Homo sapiens: one gene and its partners. The protein of the gene in region 1 interacts with the protein of each later gene in a pairwise test. Each region holds a gene or a part of one and is shown on either strand. Other genes may lie near its edges. The genes, in order: ATP13A1, MMD, CXCR2 and MANBAL.

Region 1 (7,255 bases):
TACTTGGGAGGCTGAGGCAGGAGAATGGCGTGCACCCAGGAGGCAGAGCTTGCAGTGAGCCGAGATTGCACCACTGCACTCCAGCCTGGGCGACAGAGCAGGACTCTGTCTCAAAATAAAAAGGCTGGGTGCAGTGGCTCACACCTGTAATCCCAGCACTTTGGGAGGCTGAGGCAGGGGGGATCACGAGGTCAGGAGTTTGAGACCAGCCTGGCCAATATGGTGAAACCCCGTCTCTACTAAAAATATAAAAATTAGCTGGGCATAGTGGCAGGCACCTGTAGTCTCAGCTACTCGGGAGGCTGAGGCAGAACAATCACTTGAACCTGGGAGGCGGAGGTTGCAGTGAGCCGAGATTGTGCCACTGCACTCCAGCCTGGGCAACAGAGCCAGACTCCATCTCAAAAACAAACAAACAAACAAACAAAAAAACCCCAAAAAACAAAACAAAAACAAAAACAACAACAAAAAAAGCTGGGAAGCTGGGTGCACAGACAGCACCTAATGCCCAGGGCTCTGCTCTGCTGAAGGTGACATGAACTCAAATAGGAAGAACGCTGCCAGGCACCCACCCAGTACGTCCTCAATTCACGTGAGCCAAGCCCCCGCCCCATCACAGGCCCCCGGCCTCCTGCTCAGCTCTGCCTCTTCCACCAACCCTGCTCACTACACTCCACAGCTCCACACGCACATGGGGCTCGATCGTGCCTCAGCAAAGGGCCTTGGCATGTGCTGTTTTCTCTGCCCGGAATACACAGTCACACAGCTCCCTTGCTGCCTCAGGCTTTTGCTGAAACATCACCTTCTCAGGAGCCCCTCCCTGGCTGCCCCATCTAAAGTTCCCGGCAATGTCCCATCCTGTCCTGATGTTAGATGTCATCTCTGTTTGGCATCAACTGCTGACTATGAGTTCTCCCTCCCAGTAACACCACAAAGGCAGGGGGATTTGCCTGTTTTGTTCACTGCTGTTTCCCCAGCACCTAAGACACAGAAATGTTGAATGGAACTCGTTCAGTGCTCCCTGGACCCCGTGAACCGCCATCCATTCCTCTGCTGCTCTGCTAGACCGAGCTGCATGGAGACGAGCTGCATGGAGATGGGGGGAGCACAATGATGACCCGCAGAAACAAAGCGCCACCGCACGGGTGGTTCATGGGCCTCCAAAGCAGGCAGCAAATAACAACAATCACATAACTACAAACGTGACGTCACGGAAGAAAGGTACAAGAGGCTATACGCTGTGATGGCCCCAGGGCGGGCACTCTGCAGATATCATCTCCGCTTCTCAAGATGGCACCCAGTAGTTGTTAGTTACGGTTCTCAGTTTACAGAAGGGGGAAACTGAAACTCAGAGAGCAGAAGCGGCCCTTTCTGAGATCTGAATCAAACCCAGATCCACCTCTCCTGGCTGATGGCTGTTCAGCTCCTCCCACTTCTCCATCCCTGGAGAGGAAGTTAAGAGCTAAGCTGCTTAGCTGCAGGTCAAAAGGCAGCTGAAGTTTGAGCGGTGCCACAGTCCCCTTAACCCCTCCTTTATTTTGTCCCTCATTGGTGTCTTTCATTGTACTACCTCAAAGCTACCACGTTGAGCTCCTCCCCTGGGATAGATAAGTCTTTTTGAAGGACAGAACAGGTTGTCTCTCAGGAGAGGAGAATGAGGATTCTACCCACATTCAGAGCCAGCCAGGGTGGGGGGCTTCTGTCTTTCTGTAGCCCTTGATGCTGTTCCCTTTTCCTCTTCTTGAGGCAAACACACTCCTGGAATCAGAGGGGAAGCTTCCTGATATACCTCAGTGTCCATGGCTCCAAACCTGCTGGTGTCACCTGAGGCAGGCCCAGAGAGAGACGACACAGTCACTGCTTCAGGCCCAGGGAAGCTCACAGTCACCAACTCCTCCGACGACACTTGGTCACTCAGAACTCTAAACTGTGGGTCAGGAGCGCGACCTTGCTTGCTGTTGTATCCCCGACAGAACTCAGTATCACCACCCTCATTTTGCGGAAAGACATCATGTAAATGACTCGCTCATAAACACCTCTGCCTCTCTTCAACACTGTAATTAACTGCATTTCATGCTCCTTTCCATCACAGTATGGAAGACCACTAAGCACTGGACAGCAAGACTTGGTTCAGTCTAAGAACCAACTAAGCTTCATAGATGGGGGAAACCTATCCCAGTGATCTCGCCTTACACTTTGAAAACCAAGGTAGGAGACAGATGAGATGGAAGGTAGGGCCGTTTCCAGAACAAGAGTAGTCGCTAATATGGGAACTAGTATAAACAACTCCTACCTGACCTGGGCGACGTATGCTGGGCCCTGCGCTAAGCCTTTTACAAGTATTACATCACTGAATCTAAATGACCATAACAGGGAGGACTTCAGAAAAAGGAAATAACCCGCACCAGGCATGCACAGCAAGTCAGCAGTGGGGTCATGATTAAGCCTGCGCCAAAGTGTAGAGGGTGCCCCTGGGAATCCAGGCCAGGCAGATGAGTGGCCCAGGTCGCGATGGTGACCGACAGGAAGGCCGCAGCTGGGACCCACGGCGAGGCTCGACCGTGCTGGGGGTCGGGCTCGCGTGTACACACTTACCGGGGTGCAGGTGAGCGCGCAATGCGCGTGCACAGACCAATGCCCCGAGAGGACAGTGAGCGCGTGCGCGAGGCAGATGGTGGCAAGCACGAGCAGCGCAGCTTCGGGGATCTGCACCCAACTGCTGCCCCAGCCCCAGCAGCCAGCGGCTGCGGCACCCAACCAGGCCGGGTAAAGCAGCCCGGCGAATGGCAGCACCGTGAGGCGCCGCAACAGCGCCAACCGCCGGTACGGCCACACGGCAGCCACCAGCTCGTCACCGTTCGCTATGAGCGCCGGCCCGGCGGCAAGGAGCGCGCGCGGCTGCGGCCCGGGCTTGGGCTGCCCGTCAGGCCGGACCCCGCAAGGCCGGGCCCCGCAGGGCACCGCGTTGCCCACCGCCGCCGCTGCCGCCATCTTTCCTAGCGCCGCGCTCACTTCCGGGCAGAGGAACGCCTCACTTCCGAAGTTTTACTTCCGGTAAGCCCTGAGCGCCGCCATGGCAGCCTGGACTAGGAAGAGCCAGGGCAACAGAACAGGCTGGCCCCGGCAGGGACTACTTCGGGTGCCGCCATGACAGGCTGTGGCCGGAAGAAGAGGCTGGGCGTCGCCATGACAGAGAGGGACTGGAAGACCTAACGGTGCCTGCCTCCGCTGCCACGCCGGACTGAGACCGGAAAAGACAAGGCCGGCAAGGCGGGCTTGGGCGCCACCATGACAACCTGAACCAAAAAAAGCGAGCCCTCCTCCTTGACTACACCAGCACCACCTGTCACCAGGGGCGAAGCCTGGACCCTGCGGAGGCGGGGTCGGGAGCTTCGGAGTTCAGGAGGCGGGGCCCGGTGCGGGGGGCGGGGCTTGTGAGGGGCGGGGTCGGGGACCGCCCCGGAACACAACCACACCGGACAAGAGCCTTAATGTGATAGATAAGAATTACAAATACTAGCCGGGCGCGGTGGCTCACGCCTGTAATCCCAACACTTTGGGAGGCGAGGCGGGTGGATCACCTGAGATCAGGAGTTCAAGACCCAACATGGTGAAACCACGTCTCTACTAAAAATACAAAAATTAGCCGGGCGTGGTGGCACATGCCTGTAATCCCAGCTACTCGGGAGGATGAGGCAGGAGAATTGCTTGAGCCCGGGAGACGGAGGTTGCAGTGAGCCAAGATTGCTCCACTGCACTTCAGCCTGGCCAACAGAGCAAGACTGTCTCAAAAAAAAAAAAAAGAAAAATGAATTACAAAAACCACTTTAGGCCGGGCGCGGTGGCTCACGCCTGTAATCCCAGCACTTTGGGAGGCCGAGGTCAGGAGATCGAGACCATCCTGGCTAACGCGGTGAAACCCCGTCTCCACTAAAAATACAAAAAAAAAAAAAAAATTCTCCGGGCGTGGTGGCGGGCGCCTGTAGTCCCAGCTACTCCGGAGCCTGAGGCAGAATGGCGCGAACTGGAGAGGCAGAGCTTGCAGTGAGCGGAGATTGTGCCACTGCCCTCCAGCCTGGGCGACAGAGCGAGACTCTGTCTCCAAAAAAAAAAAAAAAAAAAAAAAGAAATTACCACTTTAACATAAAAAATGAAAAACTGGTGTTTACTTGAAATTATATACTTCTAGGCCGGGCGCGGTGGCTCACCCCTGTAATTCCAGCACTTTGGGAGGCCGAGGCGGGCGGATCACGAGTTCAGGAGATCGAGACCGTCCTGGCTAACACAGTGAAACCCCGTCTCTACTAAAAATACAAAAAATTAGCCGGGCGTGGTTGCAGGCGCCTGTAGTCCCAGCTACTCGGGAGGCTGAGGCAGGAGAATGGCCTGAACCTGGGAGGCGGAGCTTGCAGTGAGCCGAGATCGCGCCACTGCACTCCAGCCTGGGCGACAGAGCGAGACTCTGTCTGAAAAAAAAAAAAAAAAGAAATTATATAGTTCTATATTATTAACTGTACTGTTGCATAAATGCTATTTGAACAAAACCACAATAGGACTACTTAACAGTACCAATTAGTAGGATTAAACAGTATGTGTGACAAACAGTAACTATTTTATGTTTCTTTTTGTCCTCTGATACAGCAAATTTATTTAAACTTAAAATTTATTGGATATTTAAATTTTGTAGCTTATATTGTTGCATATTCTTTTTTTAATTTTTCGAGATGAAGTCTCACTCTGTCGCCCAGGCTGGAGTGCAGTGGCGCGATGTCCGCTCACTGCAAACTCCACTTTCCGAGTTCAATCGATTCTCCCATTTCAGCCTCCCAAGTAACTGGGATTACAGGCGCATGCCACCGCTCCGGCTAATTTTTGTACTTTTTTTTTTAGACGGAGTCTCACTCTGTTGCCCAGGCTGGAGTGCGGTGGTGCGATCTCAGCTCACTGCAACCTACGCCTCCTGGGTTCCAGCGGTTCTCCTGCCTCAGCCTCCCGGGTAGCTGGGACTACAGGCGCGTGCCACCATGCCTGGCTAATTTTTTGTATTTTCAGTAGAGATGGGGTTTCACTATGTTGGCCAGGTTGGTCTCGAACTCCTGACCTTGTGATCCGCCCACTTTGGTCTCCCAAAGTGCTAGGATTACAGGTGTGAGCCAGCGCTCCCAGTCTAATGTTTTGTGTTTTTAGTAGAGACGGGTTTCGCCATGTTGGCCAGTCTGGTCTCAAACTCATGGCCTCTAATGATCTGGCCGCCTCAGTCTCCCAAAGTGCTAGGATTACAGGTGTGAGCCACGGTGCCCAGTCCTAGTCTTGTTTTGTTTTCTTGGGACGGAGTCTCACTCTTGCCCAAGCTGGAGTGCAGTGTTGCAATCTAGGCTCACTGCAACCTCTGCCTCTTGGGTTCAAATGATTCTCCTGCCTCAGCCTCCTTAGTAGCTGGAATTACAGGCATGAACCACCATGCCTGCTAATTTTTGTATTTTTAGGAGAGACAGGGTTTCACCATGTTGGCCAGGCTGGTCTGGAACTCCTGTCCTGGCCTCAAGAGATCTGCCTGCCTCGACTTCCCAAAGTGCTACAGGTGTGACCCGCTGCGGCCACCCACTGCATATTCTGGTTTTTTTTTTTTTTTTTTTTTTTGAGACGGAGTCTCACTCTGTTGTCAGGCTGGAGGCTGGAGTGCAGTGGCGTGATCTCAGCTCACTGCAACCTCTGCCCTCGGAGTTCAAGCGATTCTCCTGCCTCAGCCTCCCGAGTAGCTGGGATTACAGGCGCCTGCCACTGCACCCAGCTAATTTTTTGTATTTTTAGTAGAGACGGGGTTTCACCTTCTTGGCCAGGCTGAGTCTTGAACTCCTGACCTCGTAATCCACCCGCCTCGGACTCCCAAAGTGCTGGGATTACAGGCGTGAGCCACCGGGCCCGGCTCTGGTTTTTTTTTTTTTTTTTTTTTTTTTTTTTTTTTTTTTTTTTTTGAGATGGAGTCATGCTCTGTCGCCCAGGCGCAATGCTGTGATCTCGGCTCACTGCAACCTCCTCCTCCTGGGTTCAAGCAGTTCTCCTGCCTCAGCCTTCTTAGTAGCTAGGATTACAGGCATGCGCCACCACACCTGGCTAATTTTTGTAATTTTAGTAGAGACGGTGTTTCACCATGTTGGGCAGGCTGGTCTCCTACTCCTGACCTCATGATCCGCCTGCCTGGGCCTCCCAGAGTGCTGGGATTACAGGCTGAGCCACCGTGCCCGGCTGCATATTATTAAGATACATGACTTCGTAAAAGGAGAAAGGAAATGTAATAGGACTTAATAATCACATAGTATCAAATAAGATAATCTTCAGTAAAAATAGGAATGACATGTTTCTGTCCCATGATACAGTTCGATATACTTACTTTTTCAGTTTTTTCTCCAATATTAATTCTTTCCCATACAAGGTCCAAGCTTCTGCTCTTGGAGTCTGGGACTGGACCCCTTTCTGGTAGCAATACCTTTATAGAATGTTTACTCCAGGCCGGGCACGGTGGCTCATGCCTGTAATCCCAGCACTTTGGGAGGCCAAGGCGGGCAGATCACGAGTTCAGGAGATCGAGACCATCCTGGCTAACACGGTGAAACCCCGTCTCTACTAAAAATACAAAAAAAAAAAAAAAAAAAAAAAATTGGCCGGGCATGGTGGCACATGCCTGTAGTTCCAGCTACTCGGACTCGGGAGGCTGAGGCAAGAGAATCTCTTGAACCTGGGAGGCAGAGGTTGCAATGAGCTGAGATCGTGCCACTGCACTCCAGCCTGGGCGACAGAGCCAGACTCCGTCTCAAAAAAAAAGAAAAAAAAAGTGGTTTACTCCAGTTTTTCCCTGCATTTAATAATTTTGTTCCCTTTAAGGCATGTTTTTATTTTCTTGGCTGAAAAGGAGTAGCCTGAGAAGAAGTAACGTGTAGGAAGCCTTGGCCATGGGACCAATAGCCTCATAAATTCCTGATCTCTGGAGGACATCAGGGCCTCCTACCTGTTCCATTGTGACCTGGGAGTCTCTCCAGCTCCAAGGTGGAGGGATGGCTTCACTGAACACGGAGTCTGGAATTCCGTGCACACTCATGTGACCGGTGTTCCGGAAAAAGAAGCAGGAGGCGGCTGGGCGCGGTGGCTCACGCCTGTAATCCCAGCACTTTGAGAGGCCGAGGCCGGCGGATCACGAGATCAGGAGTTCGAGACCAGCCTGGCCAACATGGTGAAACCCCATTTCTACTAAAAATAC
Region 2 (7,043 bases), on another chromosome or scaffold:
CAGGCAGGGTGTGGTAGCTCATGACTGTAATCCCAGCACTTTGGGAGGCTGAGGCAGGAGAATCGCTTGAGCCCTGGAGTTCCAGACCAGCCTGGGCAACACAGCAAGACTCTGTATCTACAAAAATTTAAAAAATTCGCCAGGCATGGTGGCAAACACCTGTAGTCCCAGCTATTTGGCAGGCTGAGGTGGGAAGACTGCTTGGGCCTGAAAGGTTGAGGCTACAGTGAGCCATGATTGTACCACTGAACTCCAACCTGGGAGGCAGAGTGAGACCCCATTTCAAAAAACAGCCAAGCATATACTCAGATTTTTCAGGGAGGTCCTCATTTTAAAATATCTGTCCTATTGCAATTGAAATCTCAATATTTCAGGACAGGATAATTGAACAAATCAAGTAATAGGTATTATAATGTACATAGCAACACACACATACAAAAAGTCAGTTGTTGAAGTTATATACCCTGATTTTCAGTTTGGATCTGTACATTCCACCAATTTGAGAGCTACTGCAGAATGTAAGAGTTTTGGGGTCACTTCATTTTTAACAGAGCCTTTTAAGTAAGCAAGAGCAAACCATTTCCAAGGCCCACCTATTCAAAAAATCTTGAGAATTTTAGAGAGATTTGCTTTCTGCATCATATTTCATAGTCCACATGGTCACAAACTTTAATGTCTAGTCATATGTGTATGACTATGACTAGTAAACATCTTACAATGACAGAAGCTCCCAGGAGAATAAACTACTTTATTAGATATTAGAGTAAGCATACTTGACAAAGAATACAAATGTTAGCAATTTGCTTATCTTTTTTCTCCCCAAACCTACATTTGTCACCTTGCAACAGACTATTAAATCCCCTAGATGAGACTGGCATGAGTTTTTCAGATGCTGAAGTTTTCGTTGGCCCAAGCAAAATTAGAACATTAAATACAATTGCATCTCCTCCGGGAAGCAATGGCCACTGTAGGGGTGAGAGTCTATGGCTCGCCTTCCTATTTCAGAGGATTTAAGTACATTTAAGTACAATAAAGTTTTTCATAAAACAAAATGTATTTCATTTAAAGGAATGCCCTTTATCTTGAGATCATGTCCTTACTACTTTTCATGTTAAAGTATCTTCTCTTCAATGAAATGATGACAATAGGGGTGTTTTGTCTGTGTTAGAAATATTACTGGTCCCTGAAATCCAAAAATTCAAGATACGGTTTAATAAGATTATATTTTCTGTTCTAAAAAAATTAATATGGGGGTTTTGTCAGGTCTCCCTTTACTTAAGTTTACACAAGTGTTCCTTAACCTGTGACACACTCAGAAGAGACAAGTTAAGGTTTATTCAGGTTCATCCGAGTAAATATTATTCCTAAAGGTAAGCTGTGTGTTTCAATATCTGAACCATTGTATTGTACCAACAGTGACTACCACAGTTAAACTAGCCTGTTCCAAACACTCATTGTTAAAGAAGCAAACTGGTCTTTTCTCTATTTCTTGTTTTCAGACTGTATCCCAGCCACTATTTTTCCCTCAATGTCACTAAATGCAAGGGAATAATGAAACCACAGGTAAAGTAAAAAATTTATAATGACATAAGAAATGCCATTAATGTCACATTAACAGGAAAACTGAAAATACATACATATTCACAAACACCCCCAACACAGAGACACACATATACACACACACATACACACAAACACACACACAAAGAAATGCACCGAAGTGTTAACAGTTTATTTCTGGTTAGTTTTGTTTTTCTTATATATTTTTCAGTATTTTTAAAGTTTCTTATAATAAGCATGTTTTGCTTTTACAAAGCAGAAAAAAATTAACAAAAAATTTAGGGATCACATCGGCTTTTTCTTCACCAATATGGAATAACATCTCCTCTGGGAAGCAATGGCCACTGTAGGAGTGGGAGGCTATGGCTCCCCTCCCCATTTCAGAGGATCACTTAATTTTAAAAAGCATCTTTTTCAACAAACTGTGAACTCTCTTTGCCAAATGAACACAGTTGATTGTCTTGAAAAGGCGATTCATTTCATTCTAGGGGTGACAGTCTTCATAAATAGGTGTCTTTGGTTTTTCTATAACTAGGGTACATACTATTATTATTCCTTTAAAGAATATCTTGTTGGAGAAAGCGAATCCAGGACAGAGCTGACTGTAGGTTAGAACACACAAAGCATTCTACATGCTTACATAGTTTCTGGTGACACGACCCAGAACTGATTTCCTGGTAGATAAGGTCACAGATGGGTAAATCCAACTAATTGTGCTGAGGTTACTAGAGATAACTACCCCTTCCTCCCACCAAAGCCCCGTGGAAAGGATGGCAATGGTGGAAAACTTGTACTCACTGCGTGTGTGTAACAGTTAGCAGCATGTTCATAGCAAGTTGGCTTGTAGCGGCCATTGGCTGGAGCTCGATGGTTCATGAACCTGTAAAAACAAAAAGAACACATGTAAGAAAAACTCAAAGTGTGTGAAGAACAATGAGGAAACCCACCAGTGGGTATGTGGTCTATTCTACGCAAAGAAGTGACTGGTGGAAATACCCAGTTGCGGTAATAAAGCCAAAGCCACTAAAGAGGAGTAAACTGAGCCAATAGCAATGATCCTTAAGCAAATACCCTAGTTTATTAGATTAAGCCTTCTTTCAGTTTATTCAAAAGAAAAACCTTCCATAACCAAAAGCAAACTTCTACAACCAAAAGCAAAGAGAAACCATATCCACCCCTTCAACTGGAACCCTCCTCCTCCATTCACACACACACACACACACACACACACACACACACACACACACGGTACAACTAGAAAAAAAAAACGAATTTTTCTAAATTTTATTGTCATTTAGTGAAAAGGGATACACTACATTTGAAAAACAAAGTTTCTATTTTCTCTCTTAAAATTTATAAAGCTTTATATAGGCACATCTTTAAACCCTACATCCCATGATTAACAGGCCTGTCCCACTAGTTTCCCTATATTGTATTACCAGACAGCTTAAATAAATGACACCTGGCTACCTCTAGGCAACTTAAAACCGGAGGTATGTTTTCACCTTTGTTCTTCCTGAAATCAAAAAGTCTGCTTCAAAAACCAAACACATGACTACTACCTGATTCTTTTGGCTATAAAATTCATATATACACACAAATGTGTGTACGTATCTAAATATCAAAATCTGTTACATATATAGACATATGCCCATATTCCGCACTTCCCTTTAGGCTAACTTTGTGACCATCAGTAGTACAGAGAAAAGCATGAATACCACAGAACCTAAAGAGAGGATAGCATTCTTCCATTTCAGTATGCTGAGTGAGGATGCCCTCCCCACCAAAAACCCAACCCATACCCACAACAGGTTTCATGAGGGACTCTGGATTAGTCTAATTAATCCTTTTTTTCTCAGGAGAGAAAAAAGCAGCTGTCTGAATAAAAGAAGAAAGAGGTAGATGCACAGAAACAGACGGACGTAAAAAAAAAAAAAAATTTCAACAGCATTCAGGTTGCAGAGGTCCACTGCACTCCTGTGCTTAAGAGTCTGTAAGACGTCAACAGGCTTTGCACAATAAATAATCCTTTTGCTCAAGCTAGTTTAAAGAAGTGTGAATGGGGGTTGGGGGTTGGTATTTTGTGCCACTAATGAGTTCTAACTACTCATTACCTTATTCATACACAAAATAAAAAATGGTACAGGGCTGAACCAAATGGTAGAACCAAGTTGCCAAAAATTGGCTAAAACGCATGACCAAGCCATTTTAGAGAGTGCCAAGTTTATTAATAAAAGACCAGCCAATACTCTTTCCCTGAGTTAGGAAGAGCCTGTTATCGTTAGATCAAATAAATAAAAATAAAGTGGCAGCCACTATTAACACAATACAGATAGTTCAGGTGGAAAATCCACTGGGGAATGAATTTGGGACAGTGAAGATATTTCACTTGGCCCACTGATGGGTTAAGATATTTAACTAGTGTACAAAATATGTACTTACTGAGTATAATCTACCAGATGGTTTGAAAACCAACTGTTAAAGAGAAATATACAGTTAGTAGCTTCAAAATTTATCCAAGCTATTCTCAAATATAGTTAACTATTATTAAGCATCATCTTTTCTCCCCTGATAATATTTTAAATAATTTTACTAATTTCCTAAGAGACAAGAGTGTTGCTATACAGCTCTTATTAGCAAAAAAGAAAATAATTACACTCTTGGGAAGAATGCTTTAAAAGTGTCCCAAGAATTGGAGGATATACCACATCATTGTCCTGAGACATAACAACAGAGCTATAAGTAGCATACCCTATTAGGAATTTTCAAGGCTAAAGAGCAAGGCCCCAAGATGGCTGTAGTTAGATGAAATTGAATGTGCTCTGTGTAGGGTGCAGTAAGTAGGATTTGTCTACCCACCACCAGGCTGCAGACTAAAATAGCAATTTATATCTCTGGCAGCCCAATCTAAAAATAGTCAAGCCATTACCCAGCAACAGGGATAGACTTTCACATTTTCTCCTAAAAACAAATAAACTGGATGGCCATGTTTGTGACAGCTTAGTCCCTGATCACCTGGAATAATTCACATTAAAAAATAAAAGTAGAAAGTTATACAGAAAAATATCCCACCCATGGTGACTTAAGGCACTCTATCCTGATGCACAGGGTAAGACACGGGCAATAGGGAAAGATAAGGGTAACTATCCTGGAAGCAATTCTCTAAATCTGGGGCTCAGTAGGATAGACAGCATAATTGTTCTGCTGGGAAAGTACAATACAATTTTCCCATTTCTCTCTAACCTGCCAGGGTGCAATCAAGCCTCCTCCACAGCCTCCTGAAGAAATCACTCCTAAAACCTAAATGGAAAAGCAGATGTAAAATGTAAATCAACTCCCACACTCTGGCCTTCATCTCTTCCCCGAAAAAAGAATGGGAAAGGTTCAAGTGCTGGTTATGGAAAACAGCATCCATTTATGGAAGACATCTCTATTTAAAGCGGAGTGGCCCTAATGGTTACTCAATGCTTGAGTAACCAACAAGCTCTAGAGGGTTTGAAGGAAGGTGATTCAGTCCTGGGAGTGGGAGCTGCACTTAATAAAGCTACTAGTTAGGCAGAGTTTTTTTACTCATTCCTTCACTTTCTCTTTCAAAACTCTCCTGCCTTCCCCCTTGCCCAACGTTCTTATCACCTCCTCCTTCCCCCATACCCCTCTCCCATGCCATGACAGAATTTCAAAACCATGGAGGGAAAGAACAGATCAGAGACCTGGGAACACTCCTTAGCACACTAACACACTTTAAATTCAACCTAAAGCACTGTGCCCACTGAGTAGATCTGCAACCCACCAGCAGATCTCAGAGGCTGATCTCAGTAGATCAAATCCCACAAGTGTTCCTCATTCTCCGAGTGCAAGTACCATCAACACTACCTTCAAAATATATTTCAAATAAGTCCACCTCATCACTTGAGGTCAGGAGTTCAAGACCAGCCTGGCCAACATAGAGAAACTCCATCTCTACAAAAATACAAAAATTAGCCTGGTGTGGTGGTGTGCACCTGTAATCCCAGCTCCGCGTCTCCTACCTTAAATAAAGACCTAACATCTCAGGTCTGTACAAATACAAAGTCTCTTAACTAGTCTTCCTGCTTGACCCAGTACAGACTCTCTTCTTTACATAGCAGCTACAGTTTTCCATTAGAAACAGATGAGGGGCTGGGCATGGTGGCTCACACCTGTAATCCCAGCACTTTTGGGGAGCTGAGGCGGGAGGTTGCTTGAGCCCAAGAGTTTAAGACCAGCCTAGGCGGTATAGTGAGATCCCATCTCTACACACAAAAAAAAATGTAAAAATTAGCCAGGTGTGGTAGTGTATGCCTGTAGCCCCAGCTACTTCTGACTGAGGTAGAAGGACTGCTTGAGCCTCGGAGGTCAAGGCTGCAACAGTGAGTTGTGATGGCACCACTGCACTCCAGTCTGGGTGACAGAACAAGACCCTGTCTCAAAAACAAACAACAACAAAAAACCCAGATCACATCACACACCCCAATCCCAGCTTAAAGTCTGCCTCTGGCTTCCCAAAGTGCTTACGATAGCACTGTAACACAGTGTTCAGAGGCCCACAAGCCCTGAGTGGTCTGGGCCTCACTACCCCTCCAGTCTCAGGGTGGCATCTTTCTCTCTCTCCATCCTCTGGCTATACCACCTCCTTTCTGCTCCTTAAACACATCAAGGTTGTGTCTGCCTCTGGGCATGTGTACTTGCTGTTTACTTCTGTCTAGGATATTCTCCAGAATGCTCAGCTCTCTTCTCATCCTTTCAGCTCAGCTCAGATGTCACCTCCTCAAGAGAGGTTTTCCAGACTATCCTAACTGAAGTATCATTTCAACCCTCCCCATCCAACCAGAGCCCTATGTCACAATTGGTAAGACTTTGATTTGTTTTAGCTTATTTTTTATTTCATCTTTTCCCACTGTAGTGTGAATTCCATGAAGGCTGTCTTGTTCACCTTTCCATTACCAAACTGAAGTACAATGCCCAGCTTATTGCTAGAGCTTAATAATTGTTGAATGAATAGAAAGACATTCCAGCTACTGCTGAACTATTTTGTCTTAACAAAGATATCCCATAGTCAATTAGTTTTACTGTGGACACAGCAGGTTCTGTAAGTAAGAGAAACAGGCAGCCTTGGAACCAAGAGAACCCCGAATCTCACACACACACAAAAACACTTAAAATCCAAGACAACGGATATTCCAAGGGCCCCTTCAACATCATTTATGTTGCAACGTATAAGTGGACCCCTCTTACTATTAGCTCCCCTTTATGACTGAGCATATTTGTTCAGGAAAAGTGTCTACTGTCAATAGTGCCAATCTTGACTTAATTATTAAATAAAGGAAGATGGCATATATAAGGAGACTACCCCATGCCTATGATTTAGTGCTTTAAGAACATGGGAAAAAAGACAATAGGTAGCCCTGTAAGACTTCTAATACTGTAGATTAAAATGCTTTCCCACATATCCAGTTTTGAAGCTA
Region 3 (7,497 bases), on another chromosome or scaffold:
TTTGCTGTATCTCAGAGCCGCTGGCTCCTTCAGCTGCCTTGTCTGAGTCTCCTGGCATTCCAGCTGCCTCAGGCTTCCCCATCATACCATTGGCAGTACTATAGCCTTCAATGTCTTTCACATGTCAAAGGGAGCAGTGCATTAAAATGACAGAGATGGACTAAAGCTTCTGGTGAGTCTGGTGGCGTTCCTCCCTGGACCTGATGCCTCTACTTCTTGGCCCCACTCCTGCCTCTTGTCTTTCCCCTCACTCCCCAACCATCTGCTCTGACCACAAGTCCATCTCTGGGTATTGATATTCTTTCTTGTTTCGCACACTTGGCATTGGGTCTGAGGACACCAACTCTGCAGCAGCTTACCACCCTTGGAGCCAAGACCCTCTAATTTGGAAAGAAAGCCTTTTGGTAAAAGGGAAGATTCCACCAAAGTCCAAATGCATTTTTAAAAACAATGTTAAGTGACCCTAAGAATGTATTTTATCAATTTGCTATTGATTACAAATGAATGAATTAATCCAGGCAGAGCCATGAACACTAATTCTGCTGTCTCACAAGTGCCCACCCCAGTGAACAACACCTCAATCCCCTCCATTATTCCTTACCCTATCTCTTGCTCCATGCATCCCAGGGCCCAGAGGGGACTCAATCCCTGTGGCAGACGCACTTAAATTGCCTGCCTACCCCAAAGAAAGAATCTTTGAGTCCAACTGTTCAGCAAATGTTTCTTAGTCTTTGTCACCTCTCTTTCCCAAGCTGGGGAAGAATGCAATGCCACCTGGCCAGTTGATGCTAAAACCAGATAGAGGCTTATTACATATGGAGAGAGGCAGATGACACCAGGGCTAGCTGAGCAATTCTGGGCAAGTGACTTTTCCTTTCTGAGTCTCAGTTTACTCATCTGTAAAATGGGGCCAATACAGAATCCAACTCATGGGGTTGTGGTGAGGATGAAATGAGGGATTGCTTGTAAATCACGTAAAACATACATAAAGTACAATGTTAACCTTTATTGTTGTGATCATTATTACTGGAATAGTTTATTCACTGATAACATGCTGCCTCTCTCACTACATCCCCAGTCAAGGGAAAGCAGTCGGCAGTGGGTCTGCTTTCAAGGCTGACTTTGATGACATCTAATTTACTTTGACCTGGATATTAATTGTCATATTAGCTGTAATGTTGAGTGTCTACCAGGTTCTAGCTTCTGGGCAAAGTGCTTTCCAGAATTTGTATCAATTAATCCTCAGGATAACCTCACGAAGCAGGCACTTTCTGGAAGAGGAAATGAAGACTCTGAGAGGTTAAGCAACATACCTAGAGTGACACAGCTGAACTAGGTTTTCAGTTTAAAAAACTTCTAAAAATCTGCTCTCAAATCCTATCTCCTGTTCACTGTAATAAGGAGCAGGATCCCAGCCTAAAGTTTCTGAGCTCCATTAGGTACCTCCCTGTGTCCCAGAAAGTCAGATACAAAGGATGTAGAGAGGGGAGCCCAGATTTGACATTTCCCAGTCAGCCTCCTTCTTCATGCTCCTTAGGTCAATTTCATTTCCATGGAGATCACTGCGGTTATATGCAGGGTGGAGTGAATTAAAAAACTGGCTTCTGGTGCGGTGGCTCATGCCTGTAATCCCAGCACTTTGGGAGGCTGAGGTGAGTGGATCACTCGAGGCCAGGAGTTACAGAACAGCCTGGCCAACATGGTGAAACCCCGCCTCTATTAAAAATGCAAAAATTAGCCAGGCGTGGCAGCGCACGCCTGTAATCCCAGCTACTCCAGAGGCTGAGGCATAAGAATTGCTTGAACTCGGGAGGCAGAAGTTGCAGTGAGCCGAGATTGTGCCATTGCATTCCAGCCTGGGCGACAGAGCAAAACCCTGTCTCAAACAAAAACAAAACAAAAACCTGGCTTCTAATCCTGCTTGGAGAAGTCATTCTTTCTGGGCCTTGTTGTGTGCCTTTGGAAAACGGGAGCTTCTTCTAATTCTATTCTGTTCAGCATGCTAGCTACTAGCCATGTGTAGCTATTTAAATTAAAATTAATTAAAATAAAGGCCAGGCAAGGTGGCCCATGCCTGTAATCCCAGCACTTTGGGAGGCCGAGGTGGGCGGATCGCTTGAGCCCAGGAGTTTGAGATCAGCCTGGGCAACATGACGAAACCCTGTCTTTACAAAAACAAAAACAAAACAAACAAACAAACAAAACCCAAAAAATTAGCTGAGTGTAGCGGCACATGCCTGTAGCTGCAGCTACTTGGGAGGCTGAGGTGGGAGAATCACCTAGACCTGTAGGTTGAGGTTGCAATGAGCCAAGATCATGCCACAGCACTCCAGCCTGGGCATTGGAGTGAGAGCCTGTCTCAAAAAAGAAAAAATAAAATAAAATAAAATGAAATAAAAATTGAGATCCGCAGTCACACTAGTCACATTTCAAGTGCTCCGTGGCCACGTGTGACTAGTGGCTACCATACTGGGCAGGGCAGGTCTAGGACATTTCTATTATTGCAGAAAATTCTTTTGTGCAACACTGTCTAGGTGAAGACTTAGTTGTCTTTAGCTCTAAGCTTCTACACTTCATCACCCCAGTTCTCAGGGGCCTCAGAGGAGGCTGAAGTTTCCAGATCTCTTCCATTAGAAATATGTTGCCAGCATCTCAGACTGAACAAGTCACCTACCTGCTGTTATTGGAGTGGCCACCGATGTCTTCACTGTGCCTCAAGGTTGGGTGGTAGTCAGAGCTGTTAGACAGGAAAAAAAAGATGAAACAACCTTGACGATGAAACTTCTGACCTGGGTTGCAAGGGGGAAATCCAGGATGCCCTCCTGGGGAGGTATTCCCACAGAGGAACAATGAGGTCTGTCCTGGGACTTTGGCCCAGGACAGGTGCCACTTAGTGATTCTGGGATGAGTGCTGGGGATTTTCACATCTTCCTGTCTGATGGCTTCTGGAGGAGCCTACCAGTCTGAAGGTGGAGATTTGTCTATCCACCTTCTGTCTCTGAATGTTTTGAACCTGCACTTCCTTTTTTAACAAGGAAGATGCAGGCATCCCAGCCCCCGCCAACGGACTTGTCTGAACTCGCACGCAGTTTCTTCCTTCTTTCCGGGGTCAGAGTGAGAAGCGTCCCTCCTTCTGTTTCTGTTGAATCCCCGCACCTGACTGTGGGACCCACTGCCTCTCTGGTCCTTGAGGATCCTGCTTTCTCTCCCCTCTGTCCTGGCTCTTTCCCTTCTACCACATCTTACTTATGGCTTTATCATGCTCCCTCTGTCCTAGCACCCTTCAGCCACCACAGCTGCTCTCTCCACTTCCTCACCTCCCCTCTGCTGCTCAACAAAGACACTGCAACTGGCTTCCTTCCTACTGCTCCACTGAAATAACTTTCGCCAAGGTTCCCAATGACCTCTGGGTTACTAAACCCAGCAAATCCATTAAAAAAAAAAACAAAAACAAATTGCTTTCTTTCCCCCCAAGACAACAGATTGGAGGCAGCATTAGCATGCCTCTCCCATCTGGAAGGACAGAATAGCGTGTAGAGATTCACACTATAATTTTTTTTTCTCCAGGAACGAATGCAGGAACTGAACAGGAAAGCTGAAAGAATCCACAGAACTTTTGAAAGAAGTGGCAGGCTGCAGCCTACTCTGTGAGACAGGCAAAAACTCACCTCTAGGCAGAATAGCACTGTACCCAGGAAGGAGAAAACGGCTGCATATTCTCAGCTATCACCACTGCTTACAACACCCTGGCTAACCAGAAGTCCTGCGTCTGTCCACGTGATAAGTTCACTATAATTATAACCAGCATTTGAGAAAGTCAATACTCTAAGTCTATCTACAACCAAGGAATCTTGCAGAGTTTGCATCACTCCCCTCCCACTTCTGTCAGAGATGGTGCTGGTATTCACTGCTGGGAGTCTTGAAGACAGGTAACACCACTGGATCCCTTGCAGACATTCCCTAGCACCAGCCCAGAGTCTGGTAGGCCCACTGGGTGGCTAGACCCAGAAGAGCACTGTAGTCTGGCTTCCAGGAAGTCCCATTCCTAGAGGAAGGGGAAGAACATCACATCAAGGGAATACCCTGTGGAACAAAAGAATCTGAATGGCAGGGCTTGAGTCCCAGATCTTTTCACTGGTGGGAAGTTTCCTATTGCAGAGACAATTGCTGTGCTGGGCAGAGTGGGGGAAAGTTTGCACCTCTACCCAATAGGCAGGCAGCCTCTGGTATTGTGAAGGGTCTTAGAGAAGGGATCCTTGTTCCCCCTGGTACGCCACTGCAGACAGAGCTGGGGCTTCTCCCAAAGGAACGCAGCATTGATGCACCTATAGACAGCCTTCCTGGAACAAATCAGGGTGATTGCATCCCCACGGGAGGAGCACTCCCCAGATTCAGGTTTGCATGACAGGCAGTCACAATTCCTCTCTACTTGGAACATCAACATTTCTACAGATGAAAATAACTGCCTGTCTGATCTGAATAGCTGGAACACTGGGAAAGGAGTGAAGCTGGGAGGTGGATAGCTTTCCAGCTGGCCTAGTGGGGGACCTGAGGTAGCTCCTACCCTTCACCCTGACAAAACCTCAGCACATCTAATTGAGAGCTCTCCCAGGCACTCTCATCAAGGCTGGGATCTCTGCCCACCTGCTTTAGCTACAACCGGTGCCTACCCACCTACTTTAGCTACATCTGGTGCCTACCCAGGGATACTTCCCCTACTGGTCCAAAGCCTGAATCAACTCAGTAAGTAAAATACTGGGGAAAAATTAAATAAATAAATAAAGAGTACCCCACGAGAGAATGAGGTAAGCTTAAAGAGATTCCTGCCATTCCAACCCTGTAGGAGACAGTAAACCTTCCCACACACCAAGTACGTAACTGCTACAACCAGGATCTGGGAAAGCCAGCACACAAGGACTGTCTCTAACTAACGAACTCATACAGAGTCTTCACTCCTAAAATCCAAAAGTCTTCACTCCTAAAAACCAAGGATCAAATTAGGCTAAAATAAACTATAAATATTAAAGTCAGATCCTTAAGAGGGAAGAAAAAGAAATAAAAAAAAAACATAGTTGCTGGGCGTGGTGGCTCACGCCTGTAATCCCAGCATTTTGGGAAGCTGAGGCTGGCAGATCACCTAAGGTCAGGAGTTCAAGACCAGATTGACCAACATGGAGAAATCCTGTCTCTACTAAAAATACAAAATTAGCCGGGTGTGCTGGTACATGCCTGTAATCCCAGCTACTCGGGAGGCTGAGACAGGAGAATCACTCGAATCGGGGAGGTGGAGGTCACAGTGAGCCGAGATCAGACATTGCACTCCAGCCTGGGTAACAAGAGCGAAACTCCATCTCAAAAAAAAAAAAAAAGTCAAATCAAAAATAAATTCAAGAATAACTTGAAGAAATAGTCTACCCAAATGAGAAGGAACCAGAAAAGTAATTCTGGCAATATGACAAAACAGGGTTCTGTAACACCCCCAAAAGATCACACTAACTTTCCAGCAATAAATCCAAACCAAGATGAAATTTTTGTAATACCAGACAAAGAATTCAGAAGGTTGATTATTATTATTATTATTATTGTTATTATTATTATTAATAATATTTTGGGACAGATTTTCACTCTTGTTGCTCAGGCTAGAGTGCAATGGTGTGATCTCGGCTCACTGCAACTTCTGCCTCCCGGGCCCAAGTGATTCTCCTGCCTCAGCCTCCTGAATAGCTGGGATTACAGGCATGTGACACCATGCCCAACTAATTTTTGTATTTTTAGTAGAGATGGGGTTTCACCATGTTGACCAGGCTGGTCTCGAACTCCTGGCCTGAAATGATCTGCCTGCCTCGGCCTCCCACAATGCTGGGATTGCAGATGTGAACCACTGTGCCCGGCCCAGAAGGTTGATCATTAATTACTTAAGGAGATACCAGAGAAAAGTAAAAACCAACATAAAGAAATTTAAAAAAACCAATTCAGGATATGAATGAAAAAATTTCTGGAGGGTATATATCGTAAAGAAAAACTAATCAAAACTTCTGGAAATGAAAGCATACTTAGGGAATACAAAATGTGGTGGAAAGTTTCAACAATAGACTAGAACAATTAGAAGAAAAAATTTCAGAGCTTAAAGACAAGGCATTTGAATTAACCCAATCAGACAAAGATAAAAAAAAAAGACCAAAAGAAATGAACAAAGTCCCCAAGAAATATAAAATTATGTAAAACAGCCAAACTTGAGAATAATTGGTATTCCTGAGGGAGAAGATAAGTCTAAAAGTTTGAAAAACGTGTTTGAGGGAATAATTGAGGAAAGCTTCCCTGACCTTGCTAGAGATCTAGATACCCAAATATAAGAAGCTCAAAGAACTTCTGGGAAATTCATTACAAAAAGATTATCACCTAGCCACATAGTCATTAGGTTATCTGAAGTCAACAAGAAGGAAAGAATTTTAAGAACTGTGTGACAAAAACATCAGGTAACCTATAAAGGAAAACCTGTCAGACTAACAGCAGATTTCTCACAGAAACCTTGCAAGCCAGAAGGGATTGGGGTCCTATCTTTACCTTCCTTAAACAAAATAATTGTCAGCCAAGAATTTTGTATCCAGCAAAACTAAGCTTCATAAATGAAGGAGAGATAAAGTCTTTTTTCAGACAAACAAATGCTGAGAGAAATTGCCACTACTAAACCAGCATTATCAGAAATGCTAAAAAGAGTTTTAAATATTTAAACAAAAGCTTTATGTGCACCAAATTAGAACTTCCTTAAAGCATAAATCTCACAGGGCCTATAAAACAATAACACAATGAAAAAAACAAAGTATCTAGGTAACAACTAATATGATGAATAGAACACTAACTCACATTGAGAGGTGAAGCCAGCTGGATTTTTGGGTCGGGTGGGGACTTGGAGAACTTTTCTGTCTAACTAAAGGATTGTAAACACAGCAATCAGTGCTCTGTGTCTAGCTAAAGGTTTGTAAATGCACCAATCAGCACTCTGTAAAAATGGACCAACCAGCACTCTGTAAAATGGACCAATCAGCAGGACATGGGCAGGGCCAAATAAGGAAATAAAAACTGGCCACCTGAGCCAGCAGCGGCAACCTGCTCGGGTCCCTTTCCATGCTGTGGAAGCTTTGTTTTCTCACTCTTCACAATAAATCTTGCTGCTGCTCACTCTTTGGGTCTGCACTACCTTTATGAGCTGTAACACTCACTGTGAAGGTCTGCGGCTTCACTCCTGAAGTCAGTGAGACCACGAACCTGCCAGGAGTAACAAACAACTCTGTATGCACCACCTTTAAGAGCTGTAACACTCACTGTGAAGGCCTGCAGCTTCACTCCTGAAGTCAGTAAGACCATAAACCCACCGGAAGGAAGAAACTCTGGACACATCTGAACATCTGAAGGAACAAACTCTGGACACACCATCTTTAAGAACTGTAACACTCACTGCAAGGGTCCGTGGCTTCATTCTTGAAGTCAGCGAGACCA
Region 4 (4,149 bases), on another chromosome or scaffold:
ACTTGAACCTGGAAGGCGGAGGTTGCAATGAGCTAATATCGAGCCACTGCACTCCAGCCTGGGCAAAAGAGTGAGACCTTGTCTTAAAAAGAATGGTGGCATTATAAGGTTCCTGGGTGCCTAGGGGCCCGAGGAGGGAGGAGGGGCTGCCCCCAGCTGGAAGGAGGAGCAGGGAAGGAAGGCTAGACAGTGAGTAGGAGTGTATTCATGGACAGGGCCAAACCATGGGAGCAGTTTGCCGGGTGGCCAAGGAAACAGGTATTCCTGTTGATGAAGGTGACCAGCGGAAGCTCTGGGGCCTGACTCAGTGTGAGGGATGAAGAGGAGCCCATGTGAGGCTGGAGAGGTGGCCTTTCTTAGATGCCATTCCAGAGACAGCCACTGGAAGCTTTAAGGTGGAAGGTGCAGTGGTCAGACCTGCACTTTAGAATAGTTCCTTTCGTGGGTGCATGAGGAATGGACAGAGACAGCAGGCACTTTGCTTAGCTGTGGGCGGAACTGAAGGGGGAATTGGATGCTGGAGAGAGTAGCAGAATCAAGAGGTAGAGGGGGTCATGTCAGCAGGACATGGTGACCCACTGGACAGTGGGGAGCAGAGAGAGGGTGAGGTTACCGGGTCTCTGGTTGCTCCACCAGTGGGAGGAGGGCCGGGCCTTCTGGGTCTGGGACAGTTAAGTTGGAGGTGCCTTGGAGATGCCAGTCCTGATTGTCTGGCAGACAGCTGGATCAAGGGAGAGGTCTGGGAGGTGCCAGAATGGTTGAGGCTCTAGAGACAGGGCCTGTGGAGTGAGGGAGGCACTGGGGCGGCAACTGGGTCTCACTGTCCCTGTGGTCTCTGAACTGAGCCCCACTGAAACTGGAGGAGCCCCCAGCCTTGAGCTCAGAAGGCAGACTCCTTCCTAGAGATCCAGGCAGGCCTTGCAAATTTTGTTTTGTTTTGTTTTGGCCAAGTTACATAAACAGAGTAGGGGGACCTTCAGATCATTTTGATTTTTGGTGGGAGGAGGCTCAGCAGGCCGAAGGAATCCAGCACTGCAGTGAGAGGCCTGGCTGGGGAGGGGAAGCCCTCCAGTTATCTTGGGACAATCACTCCTTGGGGGCCTGGGACCTGGCTGGCTCTTCATATCTGGTTATCTCGCCTGGCTGATGGGAGACGATGTTGGCCGATAGGAGGGAGCTGACAGGCCTCTGGATCAGATCCGAGGCAGGGACTGCCCTTCCCTGCATGGGCCCTCCTCTTCTGTAGGGTGGGCTGAGGCTTGGGCCACGGGCCAATGGGGCAAGCAGGGAAGGTCAGGGAGTAAAGTGAGCTGGAAGCCGGGGTTGGGAAATGAAACACAGAGGGGTATTTTTCTCATCTGGAAGTGTCCCCCCTCCCAGGAGTCTTAGTCTGCTTCTTATTTTCCCATTTCTCAATAAAGAACATGGGCACTGAGAAACATTTCCCAATCATAGTGCTGGGGGCGGCAGGGTGTGGGGGCCACGGTCGGCACCTGAAAAGGGGCAGCGCCTCCTCAGCCCCTCACTGCCATGAGGGAATGCAGGGCCATTGTCACCGGATGGTTAGTTTCAAGAGAATCTAGGAATCCAGATTTCATGGGAAATCTCCCAATTGGCTTAAATTTTTAAATAAACACTGCCGGCCAGATGAAGTCTGTGGCCTGGACGAGGCCTGTGGGCTGTGGTTGGCGTTCTCTGGGCTAGCCCGGCCTCTCTGACGTCCGTCCTTTCTGGCCACGGCACACTGCAAGTTATCACCCAGAGGAGGAGAGGACACTAGATAGGAGCACACTGAGCCTATTCCAGATACTTCTCTGACATGAGCCTGAGTGGCTGGGCCAAGCTGTGTCCCTTCCCTGGAGTCTCCCTTCCTTATCAGCACAATGAACGCCAGGGCTAGATCTGTGGGTTTCAACCTTTCGTTCCTTAGCAGCAGAACTTTGTTTCATTTCAATCTTACAAGGGACAAATCACAGTGTATGAAATAGATTGAAAATCAGAGCTGCTCCTGTCGCCCAGGGAGTCTGGAATTCTGCCCCGAGGCTGCCTCTGCCCTCCCCCACAGAGGCACCTCTGACAGGCTCCGCAGAACACAGTGTGGGACTGCCCACCTGCCGGCTGGCCCTCTGCACCCCTCCCAGTCCTGGCATTCTGTGGGTTGAATGGGAGGACAAGAATGGCAGCCAGAGGAGGGCAAGCCACAGTGGGTCTGCCCCATAGCCAGCTCCTCGCCCACATTTTGTCCAGTCCCTGGCACGAGGTGATCGGCCAGTCACTGGGTGCAGCTGGCACTTCCTGGGTGCTTTCCACGTAGTTTTGCCTCCTCACATCAGCCCTGTAAGGCGGGTGTGGCTATTTCCATTTCACAGGTGAGTAAACCAAGACACAGAAAGGGGAAGTGAGTTTCACACAAGGTCAGTTGGCTGGAAAGGGAAGGATCCCAGGTTCTACCTGGGCGTCTGAGACCCCACAAGCTGCTCCCTCCCCGTGGGGCTTCCTTTATTCTTCACTGAGAGCCACGATGCTCCGGGGCAGTCCCACATCCGTGTGGGTGGTAGGTCCCGGGAATGACAGTTTCCATCTCTTGTGTTTCTGTGGCATGCTTCTTTGCTTTCAGATGTGATCTCCTTTTGCTGGCGTCAGGCTTGATCCATCTAAGCAGGACTCTCCTTTTTATCACCTCACAGGAGGCTGAACCGTCTGAGCCCAGAAGTGCTGAGGTGACGAGGAAGCCCAAGGCTGCTGTTCCTTCTGTGAACAAGAGGCCCAAGAAAGAGACTAAGAAGAAGCGGTAGAAGAGGAGGCCTGAGGAGCTGGGCGGGCAGGGAGAGGGTCTTGGGGACAGCCCTCCTGGGAATCTACATTGTGTTCCCCCGCATTCCAGGCTCAGGGTCTGAGGAGGCTGTGACGCCCTATGACCGCAGAGATCTAGACAGTCGTAACAGTCCCCAGGCTCCAGCTGGGCAATCCACCACTTCCTCTTCCTTCTGCTTCTGTGACGGTTTAGAGTCAAGGGGGCTGAAACACACTGTGAGCATAGACTGTATTAGGTTTGTTCAGAAGCCGGGTCAGCTCACAGAGTCACATTTTCTTGCTTAGTCATGTGTCCCTCCTTGAGTTGCCCCCTCCTTGTGGGTTTACACTACATTTGGGAGTCATTGTCTAATGCTGACAAGCACACCCTCTCCCATTATTTGTGCACTACAGATCTCCTCCTGATCAGTCACCTTTGTTGCTGCTGTGTAGACAGAGCCAGGCCTCACCTGTTTGTTTAGGCCAAGATGCCATGGACATGCAGCGTTAGTGATCCCACTAGCTGTGACAGCCAGGCCCAGAAAATGCCTGGCGTGAGAGCCAGCAGACAGCCAGGCCAGGGTAGGCAGTGCCTGCTTCTGCTCCATCAGGTGCAGGGGATTTGGCTGAAGGCGTGCATATTTCCTGGGCACAAACTTCCTGAGCCTCTGAAATGGGAGGCTCGTCAATTTCAGACCAACCTCTTTTCAACCCATCATAGCACGTTCAAGGTGTGCCTTTTACTTCTACCTGTACATCCCCCATCCCTTCAATTCTTTCATTCCCTGACCAGTGAGAGGGTTCCTGGGGGAAGTATGGTGAATAAACTGACATGCATGCTTCAGAACCTGCCTGTGTTGTCTTTTGCTGAGGGAGAGGGGAAGCCTAGGGCCCTGCCCCGGGGATGAGGGAAAGGCTTGACCCCCAGAGAAGTGGGACAGTGGGGGTGAGGATGGCCAGAATAGGATGGCTTCGGTAAGAGCAGTTCTGCAGGCTGAGCCATTCTGGAAGAAGTTTTCAGGAAGGATCCGGCTAAGTGCTTCGTGTGGCCCTTAGTCACTGGAAACACTTGTGAATGGCCGTGGGTGTGTTAGAGTTTCCACTGGGTCCAGGCCCCACTCATTCCCCAGGTTCCTTCTGAGGAAGATGCTGCTTGTCTTCAAAGTGGCTTGAGAAAAACCAAGTGCAATACAGTAAAAGGCCTTACGTGGCATTGGCCAGGTCTAGTCACTTGCCCTGAATCAGCTGCTGAGGAAAAGCCCTGACCTCTTGGTAACTCGGATTTGCCCAGCTCATTTACAGCCTGCCAGACAGCTTTCCCAAATGCCAGGACTGATGAGGATCTTAAGAGATGAG

The links.
Region 2: the proteins of ATP13A1 (region 1) and MMD interact in binary tests that used the Homo sapiens proteins (3 or more experiments, as listed by UniProt).
Region 3: the proteins of ATP13A1 (region 1) and CXCR2 interact in binary tests that used the Homo sapiens proteins (3 or more experiments, as listed by UniProt).
Region 4: the proteins of ATP13A1 (region 1) and MANBAL interact in binary tests that used the Homo sapiens proteins (3 or more experiments, as listed by UniProt).

What each region holds. Positions count from the first base shown.
Region 1 is NC_000019.10:19,660,676-19,667,930, forward strand, and holds the start of ATP13A1 (endoplasmic reticulum transmembrane helix translocase), read right to left. Parts: upstream 3,002-7,255; 5' UTR 2,992-3,001; coding exon 2,596-2,991; intron 1-2,595. UniProt on the Homo sapiens protein: Endoplasmic reticulum translocase required to remove mitochondrial transmembrane proteins mistargeted to the endoplasmic reticulum.
Region 2 is NC_000017.11:55,411,793-55,418,835, forward strand, and holds part of MMD (monocyte to macrophage differentiation factor), read right to left. Parts: intron 2,441-7,043; coding exon 2,359-2,440; intron 1-2,358. UniProt on the Homo sapiens protein: Involved in the dynamics of lysosomal membranes associated with microglial activation following brain lesion.
Region 3 is NC_000002.12:218,121,531-218,129,027, reverse strand, and holds the start of CXCR2 (C-X-C chemokine receptor type 2), read right to left. Parts: upstream 3,001-7,497; 5' UTR 2,675-3,000; intron 1-2,674. UniProt on the Homo sapiens protein: Receptor for interleukin-8 which is a powerful neutrophil chemotactic factor. Binding of IL-8 to the receptor causes activation of neutrophils. This response is mediated via a G-protein that activates a phosphatidylinositol-calcium second messenger system.
Region 4 is NC_000020.11:37,313,621-37,317,769, forward strand, and holds the end of MANBAL (protein MANBAL), read left to right. Parts: intron 1-2,687; coding exon 2,688-2,795; 3' UTR 2,796-3,640; downstream 3,641-4,149.